Linked DNA regions of Homo sapiens. The protein of the gene in region 1 interacts with the protein of each later gene in a pairwise test. Each region holds a gene or a part of one and is shown in the gene's direction. Other genes may lie near its edges.

What was found. Proteins that work in one complex are often made in the same cells at the same time.
Region 2: the proteins of MGAT5B (region 1) and CD46 interact in a two-hybrid assay, tested with the Homo sapiens proteins (one large-scale study listed by BioGRID).
Region 3: the proteins of MGAT5B (region 1) and CSN3 interact in a two-hybrid assay, tested with the Homo sapiens proteins (one large-scale study listed by BioGRID).
Region 4: the proteins of MGAT5B (region 1) and BMF interact in a two-hybrid assay, tested with the Homo sapiens proteins (one large-scale study listed by BioGRID).

What each region holds. Positions count from the first base shown.
Region 1 is NC_000017.11:76,944,904-76,948,403, forward strand, and holds part of MGAT5B (alpha-1,6-mannosylglycoprotein 6-beta-N-acetylglucosaminyltransferase B), read left to right. Parts: exon of another isoform or gene 1-354; intron 355-1,472; coding exon 1,473-1,547; intron 1,548-2,926; coding exon 2,927-3,183; intron 3,184-3,500. UniProt on the Homo sapiens protein: Glycosyltransferase that acts on alpha-linked mannose of N-glycans and O-mannosyl glycans.
Region 2 is NC_000001.11:207,755,054-207,758,553, forward strand, and holds part of CD46 (membrane cofactor protein isoform 3 precursor), read left to right. Parts: intron 1-1,960; coding exon 1,961-2,149; intron 2,150-2,486; coding exon 2,487-2,589; intron 2,590-3,500. UniProt on the Homo sapiens protein: Acts as a cofactor for complement factor I, a serine protease which protects autologous cells against complement-mediated injury by cleaving C3b and C4b deposited on host tissue.
Region 3 is NC_000004.12:70,241,233-70,245,396, forward strand, and holds the start of CSN3 (kappa-casein precursor), read left to right. Parts: upstream 1-1,364; 5' UTR 1,365-1,433; intron 1,434-3,579; 5' UTR 3,580-3,587; coding exon 3,588-3,641; intron 3,642-4,164. UniProt on the Homo sapiens protein: Kappa-casein stabilizes micelle formation, preventing casein precipitation in milk.
Region 4 is NC_000015.10:40,089,635-40,091,879, reverse strand, and holds part of BMF (bcl-2-modifying factor), read left to right. Parts: coding exon 1-93; 3' UTR 94-2,245. UniProt on the Homo sapiens protein: May play a role in apoptosis. Isoform 1 seems to be the main initiator.

The sequences.
Region 1 (3,500 bases):
AACAGTTAGATTTCACCCACTGGCTAAAGACGGGAAAGCGGCCTCATTAGGAGATGGGCTGGGCCAGGTCAGGTGCCACCAGGCATGGTGGGGTGGGGAGGTTGAAGCCTAAAACAGACCTTTCTCTGAGTCCGGGATGGCTCCTTCCTGAGTCCTGACTGCTGCCCCTGCCCTTTCAGGTCAGTGATTTTCTCCACGGTGGCTCTGCACTGGGCCTGAGAAGGTTAATGGAACAGGAAGGGGTTGGTTGGTTAAGAAGTCGGGGGGAGGCAGGAGTACCCCCTTACTCCTCTGTCACTCTTCCCTCCACTCCCCTGGTTTCTTTTACCCAAGCTACTGCATGCATCTGCCCACAGGACAGGTTGCTGTGTGACTATTAGATATTTATTTATTTATTTATTTTTGAGACAAAGTCTCACTCTGTTGCCCAGGCTGGAGTGCAATGGTGCAGTCTCAGCTCACTGCAACCTCCACCTCCCAGGTTCAAGTGATTCTCCTGCCTCAGCCTCCCAAGTAGCTGGGATTACAGGCACCTGCCACCACGCCTAGCTAATTTTTTTTGTATTAGTAGAGCCGGGTTTCACCACGTTGGCCAGGCTGGTCTTGAACTCCTGACCTCAGGCGATCCGCCCACCTCGGCCTCCCAAAGTGCTGGGATTACAGGCATGAGCCACCGTGCCGGGCTAACTATTAGATATTTAGACAGACAACCTGTGGCCTCTGTTTGGGGGTTTGTGCCTGTGGGGGCAGGGTACTTTACAAATGTCATCTCATTCCCGCTGACTGGGAGATGCCCCTGTGTTCCTCTGCATGAATGTCCCATGTCTTGGGCAGGATACAGGCAGAGCTGGGGATGCCTTTTCATTCCATGACTATTTCCTGAGCACCCACTGTATGCCAGGCACTGTGCCAGGCACTGGAGATTCAGTGTGAACAAGCCATAGTCCCCACCCTCAAGGTGTCCATAAGTTTATGAGAGACATGACGAATACACAGGAGACAATAACACAGGGGCTCATTCTGTGCTGGGGGAAGTCTGGGGTGCTGGGAGTCACCAAGGAAAGTGTTCCTGTAACAGGAGTGGGGGTGGGGCTCAGGGAAAGCTCCCTGGAGCAGGTGATGCCTAAGAGGGTGGGTGGGCTGTGGGAAGAGGAGGTGTCAAAGCCCAGTAGGGGACACAGCGCTGAGCTTTATCCTCATTGCAGTTGGGACAGGGACCTGGGAGGGGGTGGGGAGGGATGAGGCTGGGCCTTGTGGGTCCTGAGCCTGAGTCCCGGAGGGCTACTGGAGGGTGTGCGGGGAACGGGGACTCTGAGCTGGGTGGAAGGGCCAGGTGGATGGGGTGGTCGGCTCCCTGGGCATGGCACAGGATGTGAGAGCCCACCAGACCTCCACCCCCAATGCCGAGCATGGCAGGGCCCCCGACGGCTGGGCCTTCTCCCGCCCCATGTGTCTGCCCATCCCTCCCACAGGTAGACCCCTACCTACCCTACGAGTACACCTGCGAGGGGATGCTGGAGCGGATCCACGCCTACATCCAGCACCAGGTCAGTGAGCCCTCTGGTCCCTGCCCCAGATCCTGTCAGACCAGAGGAGGGGGCTGAGCCAGCTTCATTGTCTGCCCAGGGCCCTGCACCCGTGAAACCATCCAACTCCCTGCTCCCTCCTCCAGCCTGTCCAGTCTCTTCCCAGAGTTCCCTCAGGGCTGGAGACAGGCAGGCCTGACTGCGGGCCTGGAAAGCAGCACACTCCGGGCACTCCTGCTGTCTGGGCCCAGCCTTAGAGCCCAACTCCACGGCACTAACAGAAACACAAAGACTTCCGTTCTTAGAAAACAGTGGTTCGAAAGTCTGCTAACTGATTGGGATTTGGTAACTGAATGGGAAGTGAAGATCCCCAGACTCTCCGCCCACCTGCTAAGGATGGCAGTGAGACTGGAATGGGAGATTAGGATCTCTGCCCTGAGAAACCAGGGGACAGCCCCACGGTTTCAAAAACTCGGCCACCTCAGCCCCCGAGGGAGCGCCTGGGCAGGCACCTGTCCAAGGAGTACACTCCTTCTCCTCCCACGGGTGCTCAGAGTGCCTGGAAGTCGTGGGTGAGGAGGAGGGCGTGCCCTATTCCTGGGGAGTCCTGGCCCTCCACTGCATCCTGGTGGATCTGAGCCACCATGAGGGCTGCAGGTGGCCCAGATGGAGCGTGGCTCTGCAGGCCCCGGGTGTCCAGGGTGATGCCTGGGGTGGGCCTTGGGCTCAGGGCCCTGGGGCAGGTGGCCGTATGGCTGTAAGAAATTTCCACAGATAGTACGTGACCTCCCTTTCCATCTTGTTGGCCCCACCAATATTAGGGGCTGAGAGAGTCTGGTTCTCCCCTGTCCCTTTACAGATGGGAATACTGAAACCCCCAGAAGGGAGAGTGTATTCAGGTGAGGGGGTGAGGGTCAGGGCCGTGGCCAGAACCCAGGACTGGACCCAGACTGGAAGCTCACAGAAAAGCATTCGCGGGGCCCTCCGGCCCCTGGAGTTGAACCCTGCAGGGAGAGCCTCACAGCCAGCCTGGGGCCCTGTCCCCATGGAGGGCAGGGCTCGTGGGCCCCAGGGTAGGAACCCCAGCCTGACCTGAGCATCGAGGCAGCTCCAGGGCACACAGGATGCAGAGGGCCCTGAATCCAAGTCCTGTTCTGCCATCCAACCCCAAGGCCCTGGGCGGATGCCGTGACCTCTGAGCCTCCATAATTCCTGTAAGCGATCTGGAGACACGAGTGTCCATGAGAAGTAAATGAAATAATGCAGGTAAAGCTACCTGGTATTCAGTAAGCGCCCAGTAGTGGTGGCTCGTACTGGCACGGCAGGGCCACACCTTCAGGTGTCTCCCAGGCACACCTGGGTCGCACTTCCCCACCCTGACACTGCTCTCCTCCTTGCAGGACTTCTGCAGAGCTCCAGACCCTGCCCTACCAGAGGCCCACGCCCCGCAGAGCCCCTTTGTCCTGGCCCCCAATGCCACCCACCTCGAGTGGGCTCGGAACACCAGCTTGGCTCCTGGGGCCTGGCCCCCCGCGCACGCCCTGCGGGCCTGGCTGGCCGTGCCTGGGAGGGCCTGCACCGACACCTGCCTGGACCACGGGCTAATCTGTGAGCCCTCCTTCTTCCCCTTCCTGAACAGCCAGGACGCCTTCCTCAAGTGAGTGTTCCCCCACCCTCCCCACCCAGCCGCTATCATCGCTGGCCCAGCCGGGTTCACTGAGAGCTCTCATGCCCAGAACCGGCCCTCAGCCCTGCCAGTGTGGGGGGATGTAATGCTTTCCAATGAGTCAGGAAGGATCCAGAAGGGATCCTCCAGGCCATTATCCAGGTCATTGCTGCCCTACTCTTGGCCAAACCCTAAACTACCAGGGAAAGCTCCTTCCATTGCCTGCTCTCTTCCACCCACTCAGCCCCCTGCCCAGCCTGTGGGCATCGTCCTGTCCCAGACCATGAAAGCTGTCCCAGGTGCTCCTC
Region 2 (3,500 bases), on another chromosome or scaffold:
CAAGGCTGCAGTGAGCCCTGATCATACTCCAGCTTGGATAACAGAGCAAGAGACCCTGTCTCAAAACAAAACAAAACACACACACATACACACACAAACAAACAAAAAAAGAAACAAAATAGGAAGCTGAAGAAGATAATGAAAGCGATTTGAAATAGAGGAACATAGAATTATGAAATGAATAGGGTGCAACATGGAAAATAACAAAACTAAGAATGAAGAGAAGGAAAAGCAAGGTTAAGTTTGAGGTTCATAAGGGTAAATCAAGACAGGTATGAAACCTAGAGAAAGTAAAAATGAGAAGTCACGATGCTAGGCAGAGAGAATACGTGAATTAAAATAAACATTCAATTTTTGGAGCAACTCACTCTCACAAGGAGAAGGTTTCGTAAGCAGACAGTGCTGTGCATGGGAGACCTGCCCTCTCAAAGGTAGTTGCCAAATGGTTCCAGATAGTTGAAGGAAACATGTATCAAATTTCAGGCCAGTCTCATTCCTCCAGAAGAGGAGCTGCTTTTTTGGACAAAACCCGCAATCTCCTGTTGTGCGTGGTCTCTTCTGCCTATTTTAGGTGTTTTCCTTATTTCCAGTGAAAGAAGCCAAGATCAGTAAGCACTTACACAGTAGCGTCTCAGTTTCCTTACTGGGCATACTACAATGCAAAGAGAGCAGTCCATATCTGGTCACCTGCCAGGATACCAGAAGACTGGGAGATAGGCAGCACAAGAAATGGCCTAATCTTCTTTCTCCATTGTGCTGTAGAATGATTATTTTCAATATGAAATTGATTACAATATATTCTTCACATTGTTTTGTGTTTGACAGCAGTGGATTTTGAATACCAAATTTTTTTTGAATAGCTACTCTGAGTGACATATTGTGCTGGGTGTTGTGGCCACATGGATGAATGGAGTTGGCCTTGTTAACTATTAAACACAAAAGCATGTGATAGTTACCTGAGAGATCCATGCAGGGGAGAGTCCAGGGGAAGGTGACTGATCACTGCTTCCCAGGGGGAGGCAGAAAATGCTTCCTGGAGGAGATGATGGGTGGATTAAGGAAGATGAGTTGAGCAGGAGTTGTAGCTACCAGCCAGGGAGGAAGGGTATTCAGAGCAGAGGAAGCAAGGTGAGCAAAGGCACCAAGATGTGACACTACTGGACTGCCAAGCTATTCAGTGTGGCAGAGTAGGGCAAAGGAGGCAAGAAAGAAGGAAGAGGATTAAATCACAGGGTGAGTAATTCTGAAAAGCAACAGACTCATCAGGAGTAAACACTCACCATCATAAATTCAGACTTTCACGTTATTACCTGTCCTTTTAGGGCAACTTGAGCCTTTTGTTTGACTTAGCACAACATGAATCCAAACTAGGGTTGTTTTGATTTTCCCAGGCACGGTAGCAGACAATTTCTTGAATACTTATTTGCAGATAGAGTTTGTCAGTGTCAGCATTTCTTGTGCACCCACAAGGTGAGTATAGTAGAAAAAGAAGAACATGGTTCTTGACCCCCAGGAACTTGCCTTTTAAGAGAAGACACCCTGAAGTGACAAGCTGTTATAAGTTAGTGTTTTAAACTATGGAAGAACAATCTGAGCAGAGTACTCTATACTGTAGAAGACTTCTTAGAGGAGAAGTTACTTTTGAAATGAATTTAGAAAAATGTGGGGAAAGATGCATCCATATATATTTTAAGATCAAAGACATTAATGCTGTCTCTTCAGTTTATTGTCGAATGTTTATTCCCAAACAAACCAAAAGCTAATAGGATGTTACTTAAAACATGCAAGTCCCATTTCCTCCACTGCTATGAGCACTCAGGTAAAAGCATGGAACAGTCATTTAAAATCTTGCCAAGGGCCTTTCTGTTTTTTCTGTACTACCTGCTGCCAGACCACAGTCCATGGCTGATGAAAGTGATATCAGTACTTCATCTTCATGTTCCTATTCTCTTATCCCTAGATGCCTGTGAGGAGCCACCAACATTTGAAGCTATGGAGCTCATTGGTAAACCAAAACCCTACTATGAGATTGGTGAACGAGTAGATTATAAGTGTAAAAAAGGATACTTCTATATACCTCCTCTTGCCACCCATACTATTTGTGATCGGAATCATACATGGCTACCTGTCTCAGATGACGCCTGTTATAGTAAGTAAACAAACCTCTTTTTTTTTTCTGCTTGCTCTAGAGATTTGCATACATTTTGGGGTACATATTCCACTACGGTGATGATGATTTTCTTCTTGTAAAATGAGGTTCAAGATAACAATGCATTTTTGCAAGCTTTGAGAAATCAAAATCTCCAAGAAATCATTTTCCTGGCAATAGATTGCCTGGGTGAATATGAATCTTAAGTTTGCCCTTATAATAAGTAAATAATGAAAATTATATTCCCACCCATTCAAAAGAGCACTGCAGAATTTTGATTTTGATTCAGATCTGTTTTATAACTGGATTGAAAACTATCAAAATTATTTTCTTTCAGGAGAAACATGTCCATATATACGGGATCCTTTAAATGGCCAAGCAGTCCCTGCAAATGGGACTTACGAGTTTGGTTATCAGATGCACTTTATTTGTAATGAGGGGTAAGTTGCTCCTTAGAGGAAATAAGGGAAGTGTTAGTAATTTTATTTTTGTTTTGCTTCTCTTCTTAAGCATTCCTGTAAACTTAATTTTGCTTTCTATGTGACAAGTTATACTTCTAGCCAAACAACTCTTGGATGTTTTATGGAGATAGGCAAGATATATAGTAAATAGAAAGTAATTGATATTTAAGGAAAGCAAAACTACTTGCTGTTTCTGACAATAAGTCTGTTGTAAGCATTAAGAATGTAGTAATCATGAGAATTTGTCCTTCACAACTGAGTGTCCCCTATTTAAATCTGCCAACTCTTAGAGTTGAAGTAGGGCTCACAAAAATGAGAAATAGAATTGCCAACTAAAGATACACTTGTATCCAGATGACTCTGTAAAGTGTTATCAGACCAAAACTGACGCGGTTAGCCTTTACCATCATGTTGATCAAAATCTCTCAGTTGAAAAACCTTATTTTTGAGACTGCTACAGTGTGAAGCATCTCAAGAGCAGGTACTGAGCCCTCGGTAATAGCCTTTGTTCTGTAGGGTTTTGAAGTTGTATATATTGGAGATACTAGACATTTAAGATAAATGTGCATTTATAGAGTAAATGTAAGTATTCTGCTATAACAGAATACTTGAGGCTAGGCATTTATAAAGAAAAGAAATGTATTTGGCTCATATTTCTGGAGGCTGGAGAGTTCAAGGGGATGGCAGTAGTGTCTGGCAAGGGCTTTTGTGCTGCATCATAACATGCTGGAAAGTGAAAGGGAAATTTAGCATGTGCAAAAAAGACAAAGCACAAGGGAGGGGGTTCTCGCTTTATAACAACGTGCTCTTATGGTAATGAATCCAAGCCTACAAGAATGAGAACTCATTCCCTGAAGAATTAATGAAGACCCTCTAGAAAGGCATTATAC
Region 3 (4,164 bases), on another chromosome or scaffold:
TGGCTGGTGTTATTACTTTACCAACTTGGTTTAGCCATTTTAAATTCTGTCATCTCTTTTTGAACCACAAAAACCAACTATTCTGAGAAACAGAAAATTTCATATTACTATTTTACTCTGTGTAATCCAAATAAGTATTCTAGGGTTTAGAATATTGTTCCTAACTTTCTAAGACATGCAATACTTCTAAGAAACAGACAGGAATATAGACATAACTACAATGCTGATATTATTTCTTGTTTGTGTTCTGGCAGTCCTACATTAATTCCTGTAAGTTCCTCAATCTGGTCAGGTCTTCACAGCCAAAATAAGTCACAGTTAACATTATTTCTTTAGAAAAGCAAGTAAAAGAAAATATGCTTTCCTGAATTATCTAAGCAAAATTTTGTTTAGCTATTTTTTGCCAAAATATTCTCAATGTCAGTGGGTTTGTGATTTATGCTCTAAGTCAAAATGACTTTCCTTAAAACAGAACAATTATCTCCAATTCAATAATTTAATAATTTTTTTTTCAAAATGGTTCACCTATATTATTGAAATTTAAAATCTTAAAAAAAGTTTATTCATAAGAGGATAATAAATCACTAAGTATGTAGTCAATGCATACGGGAGAAAATGTGCTGCAGCCCAAACGCAAATGATTCCCCACTATATACTGATTAAAATGTTTCATATATGGGTTTGACTTTTATAAGGAGGTGCTCTTGGGTATGTGTGAGATGGCCAATTATTTAATTTTTAAAAATCAATAATTGTAATTCTGGAAGGAAGAAGACCAACCACAGTCAATGCCAGATGTAGTATCACTTGAAATCCAGGTTCTTAAACTAAAAGAAACAATTAAAATGTGAAAGTATTGTGGCTATTTTTCATTTCAACAGCAGTTTTAAGTTTAAATAGATAGGATAAGTTGAATAAGAATACAATTAATATTTTTAAAAATTCTTCTATATTTCTTTATAAACAAAAAAAGATTATTTAAAAAGATATGAATACTTTTTTCAAGCTTTATGAGTGATGACTCTACATCCTTCTCTGCATTTCTTTTTTATTTTATTTTATTTTATTTTATTTTATTTTATTTTATTTTTATTATACTTTAAGTTTTAGGGTACATGTGCACATTGTGCAGGTTAGTTACATATGTATACATGTGCCATGCTGGTGCACTGCACCCACTAACTCGTCATCTAGCATTAGGTATATCTCCCAATGCTATCCCTCCCCACTCCCCCCACCCCACCACAGACTGACCCAAAGGTGACCCTGCTATCATCATCTTATTGGGTAAAAAGTAGGAGGGAAATAGAATAGCGTGACTCAAGGTACTAATACCCTTTAATTGGTCTTCAGTTATTTTTCTTGGGTCTTCTCTACAGCTGACAGGCCAACTCAACCTACTGCCAACCAAGACCTGACTGGCACGAGGAAAGGTAATGCTGCTGAAACACTTGGAGAAAGTGATCCTTTTCACAGTAGTTAGTTGGGACATCACCATAGTTATTTCAGAATCACATTTTCTTCCTTTTAGTTATTGTTAAGTTTGAATATGACCTAGCATCACTTTAAAATTAATTTCTAACCTAAACCTAAGTTCTGGATGGTGTTATGTTCAAATTTATTTTTAACTTTACTTTGGGTTCCAGTCAAATTCTGATACCAACTAAATCATAGCAGCCATTGTGAATTCCGAACAAGAAGGCGTTTAACGTATTCCTACAGACAAATGTTGAGAGTTAACTCCACAGGAAGTTGGGCTCATGATAATAATCGCAATTAACCCCTTAATTACTTTCAAATTTTATTTCTATAAAAGTCATAATTTTATTTGTTATGGAATAATTATTTTTTTAAAACATGTTTTTCAAATATTCATGAAAGCTGGATAATTCTACCATTTCACGAATTATTTCTTCTTACCAAGTGATGAGGGCAAATGCAAATGTAGCTGATGCGCAAAGTATGGTCTTATCTCTGTGATTTTTGTTTGTGCCAAAAGGAAATTACTATCATTTTATAGAATATTTTCTTTTGTTTACATATCATTTTACTGTGTGAACTGATAAGGGGTCTGTGATTCATCATAAAAACATTTTCAGTCTATAATCCTAAAAGATCACTAGCAAGTGAAGCATTAATAAGGAGCTTCATCCCACTTAAAGAAATATGAGTGTGCTTAGATTGTTCAAATTGATTCCAAATGAGTTCCATCGAATGGAAATTTGATGACATCGTATGGGCAGTTTTGAAGTCACTTTAGTAGACAGCCTTCCTAATCATTATTGCCTGAGAATCAGACGCTAATGGAGTCCAGTGGGCTTTCCATCCCCTATCTGAGGCTTTAATTCTGTGAATCTTTTTTGCGAAGTTCAACTTTGTAGTGATTCAAGTTTATATGAGTGTGTCAATAACAATAGCTGCAACAAGATGAAGTTAGTAATTACTTCCTAAACATAATATATACTTAAATATAAAAAGTTTGGGGTATCATATATTATTAGTCTAAAAAGATGATTTATTAAAAATCAAATAAGCAAGTATGACACTGTATATACTCTTTTAGAAAAATAAGGCTAATGTATTTCTTTAAATATTTTAGTCAAAGCCACTGTAATTGTCATCTCTATACTTCTTATTAAAACAATCAAGTTAATCATATCAGTTATGATTACTGGAGAAGTATGTTATAAAGAAAACAGTCTCATAACCCTCCACTTCCCATTCCATCCTACATACTTCTGTTGGATTGATCATGGAATTATAGAATTTTAGAAATCTCTAAGTTCAAACCCTGGTTTTACAGGTAAGAAAATGTAAAGCCCAGGAAAGGGAAATCACTTGATCAAAGTTACAGAGGTAGAGATAAGGCCTGGTCTAGAATTCAGTCCTCCAAAAAATGTATAGTCATACACTTTCTAGTCCAAAAACACTCAATTGTTTTCTGTTGTTTATAAAGCCATGCCTAGCTTTTTAACCCATCATTATCTTAAAGGTGTCTACTTTTTCTGCTCTAAACTTTCCTTCCAATCTTATATTTCCCTTCTCATACAAGATTCCAATCAAATGTTCATGGCGATTCTCAAGACTTTCTCCTCTACTTGAAATATTTCTCTCCCTGTTAAATACTGCATAGGCAAGCCTCATCTATATGTCATTTTTTCCACACAAAGACTGCTGCTTCTCTTAACTGAAACTTTTATTAATAGAAAACCACTTTTGTGGCATTTTCTACTTTTTTTCCCTCTTACAGTTGTTTTTCAGTATATGTTTCAACACTCTTCCTAAAATTGATGCTACTCATTGGCAAGGCCTGTATCATATTTACATTGATAATCTCAACATTTGACATAGTAATGATAATTTGATAATTCCGTTAATATTGTCAAAAATTAAATTCAGAAATTTTTACTCCAAGTTTGAGTTTTTACATTCTTTTGTTAAAATAAATTTTTCACATCGGCTAAATCTACCTGTAAATCTGGCTTTTTTTCTTAATCAAGGAAACATTGTATTCAAGTCACTCCTAAATTTCTAGTAACAAATTCTTTTAAATTAATTTTTTTTTAAATTTATCTTTAGGTGCAATAATGAAGAGTTTTCTTCTAGTTGTCAATGCCCTGGCATTAACCCTGCCTTTTTTGGTAAGTTAATTTCATCTAACCAGATTGTACTGACTTTAAGAAAATTTTGTTTAAGGGCTTTAACTATGCAAACTTCTAAATACAATTATGCTTCATAGAACAAAATATCCACATAGTTGTTACATTTTTAAGGTTAATTTTTTTAATATTTATTTCTATTATGAAATCAAAGTCATGTTCTTTTGGATATCCATTTAGTTCTGTGAATTAAGAAATCACACTTAATCATGTACAGGAAACTTTTAAAATTCTCATGCTATAGAGAAAATACATTCAGGGGAAAAACAATACTGAAAACATTTTAAAATTGTAAATGCATTAAGGATAATTCAGAAAGAATAAATACAGAAATCATAGTCTGGGAATCAGAAATTATTTTAATTAAGTTCCTGTCTCACCCAGACTCCAATCTCTTTATGGAAACAAAATCCTTCAAAGGTCAACTTTGGTTAAGCTTTTTCACAAGTTTCAAAGACCTTGATACTTCTGCCTTTAATATTTGAATCATTAACTTTTGTTATAT
Region 4 (2,245 bases), on another chromosome or scaffold:
AACCAAAATCGTGTGTGGTGGCAGATCCTCCTCTTCCTGCACAACCTTGCTTTGAATGGAGAAGAGAACAGGAACGGGGCAGGCCCTAGGTGAGGGTGGGCTGCCCTCTTCACATGGGGCACCAGGAACACCGTCTGGAACAGGAAGGACATCGGGCAGGACTGACACTGTGTCTTGTGAAATTGTTTTTTTGTTGTTATTTTGTGTTTTAATTTTTTTTAATTTCTCTCTGAGTGTACATACAACATACTCAAGCGGGACCTTCTTTCTCTGTCAGGCCCTTGACCTGGAATGGGGGCCTTTGTCAAACACTGTTGAAGGAGAGGCTGATGTGTCTGTGATGGTGAGAATTCCCAAGGGCTCTGACAAGTAGATTCTTCGACTGAGGAATCTACCAGTTGTCGAAGATGATCCGTTAGTGATGTTCTCTGGGAAGTGGACTGTGGTTTTTCCAGAGGAACTCAGTTAAGAAATCGAGAGTGGATTAGACTCCCAGTTCCACCAAACCTATGAGCCTTCCACTGTGGATGGGGGCCGTGATCCTGATGGTCACATTGCTTTAACCCAGCAGGGCTTCGGCCAGGGGCTTTCCACTTGAGGATAGCAGCTTCACTAGGCTGGCCGGCCAGCTCCACATCTGACTGGGTTCTTACTTCTCAGCCAGTACCTGCCCCATGGGCTCAAGGATTCCTGGCCAGCTCCTGCCACCTCCAGCAGACCTCAGGGAGGGTTGAGTTTCTCTAAGGACCCCTCAAACATGTCGCAAAATGAACCAAACTTCTGGCTAGGCCTCAAAACTGACTTGGTCCCACTTGGAGGCCCCAGGATTGGTCCTGAGGTACAGAGCCACTGCCACCACTGGCGGCCTGGGACCAGCTGGGTGTCAGCCACGGATGAGCCGAATAGCCAGTCAGCATGTTGCTGCTGGCAGCCTGTGCCTTTGTCAGCTCTTCTTTCAAAAGACCCCACCGACAGACCGCATTCCACCCCCAACATCGGCACTGAGGGACATCGGGGGCAAGTTTGCAGTGGGGCCGGAAAATATGGTGGCCACCCTACCATGAGAGTCAGCCGTAGGGGACCCCAGACCCCTTGGTTTCCTTGGAAACAACATACCTCTTCCCCCTTATCCCCAGTCCTTTTTCATACCTAGTGGGATACAGAAGAAGCCAGGACAGTGGCTTTGCCAGCTAAGTGACTTTTAGAGTAACAGATAACGATTAGAGTGGGGAACCGTCAAAGCTGGGTACACATTTCCTATCTTCCTCCAGCTTCCAGCTAGGCCAGAAGGGCATGCTCTGGAACCCAGCAGGATCACAGCTGCCTGTGCACGTCTTCCCTTCTCTCCCTGCTGCGGCACTTATGGAGAGGATCTAAAGCAGCCGGTGTGGCAGCTCCGATAGCAGGCACAGGGAATCTGTTAACCAGACGCTAGAAACTAAATTATAACTTTTGCATATGTGAGAAAAGACAACATTGGTGCTAACAGTGAAGTAAGGCCCAAAGGAAAGACGGCTTCCCTGGACAAAGAAGACCTCAGGGCTACCCAAGGAAATAGGAGGAGTCTAGAGTAGACTCACAAATCTGAACAAGCCCAAGTCTTCCAGTTCTGAGGAGAGGAGGTCTTCAGTACTATTGAAGGAGACATTGATCTTCTGGATGTACAGTTGTGCAGGTTGTTCACTGCACAAGGGCACCTGCAGCTAATGGAGGCTGGAATTCAGCTTGTGTTCTGCTCACTAAGCTGTGTGCGTGCCCTGGTGTGGGGCTACTTCTCCCAAGAAGAAGGGGTGCCTTTCCTAATTTGCAAAGGTGCCATATGGGCTCACAGCACCCTGGAGGAGAAGGGCCTCAAACTGTGCATGTAAGCCTTTGTTTTGTTCTGCTCAGATATTCTGGATATTACCTCTTCTTGGTCAGAATTCTATTCTCAGGGTGTGTACCATGATTTGTCTGCTAAGAAGACGGGTTCCTGCTTTGCAGAGAAGGAGCCGGGGACCAGCTTGAAGACTGGCTCTGGGACACACTGACCATTGTGAAATTCAGCCTTCCCTGTGGGTCTCCATACCATTTTATGATGTGTATGGGACATACGTTGTTCTCCCCTCTCTGGATCAAGGTGGTGACAGGCAGCCTGCTGCCGTATGCTTCAGTGGCACACACCAAAAAACCGGGATTATTTACAGCAGCCACTATTCACCCCTTTTGGCAGACTCTCCACCTGAGTTCAGTGAGAGAGAAAATG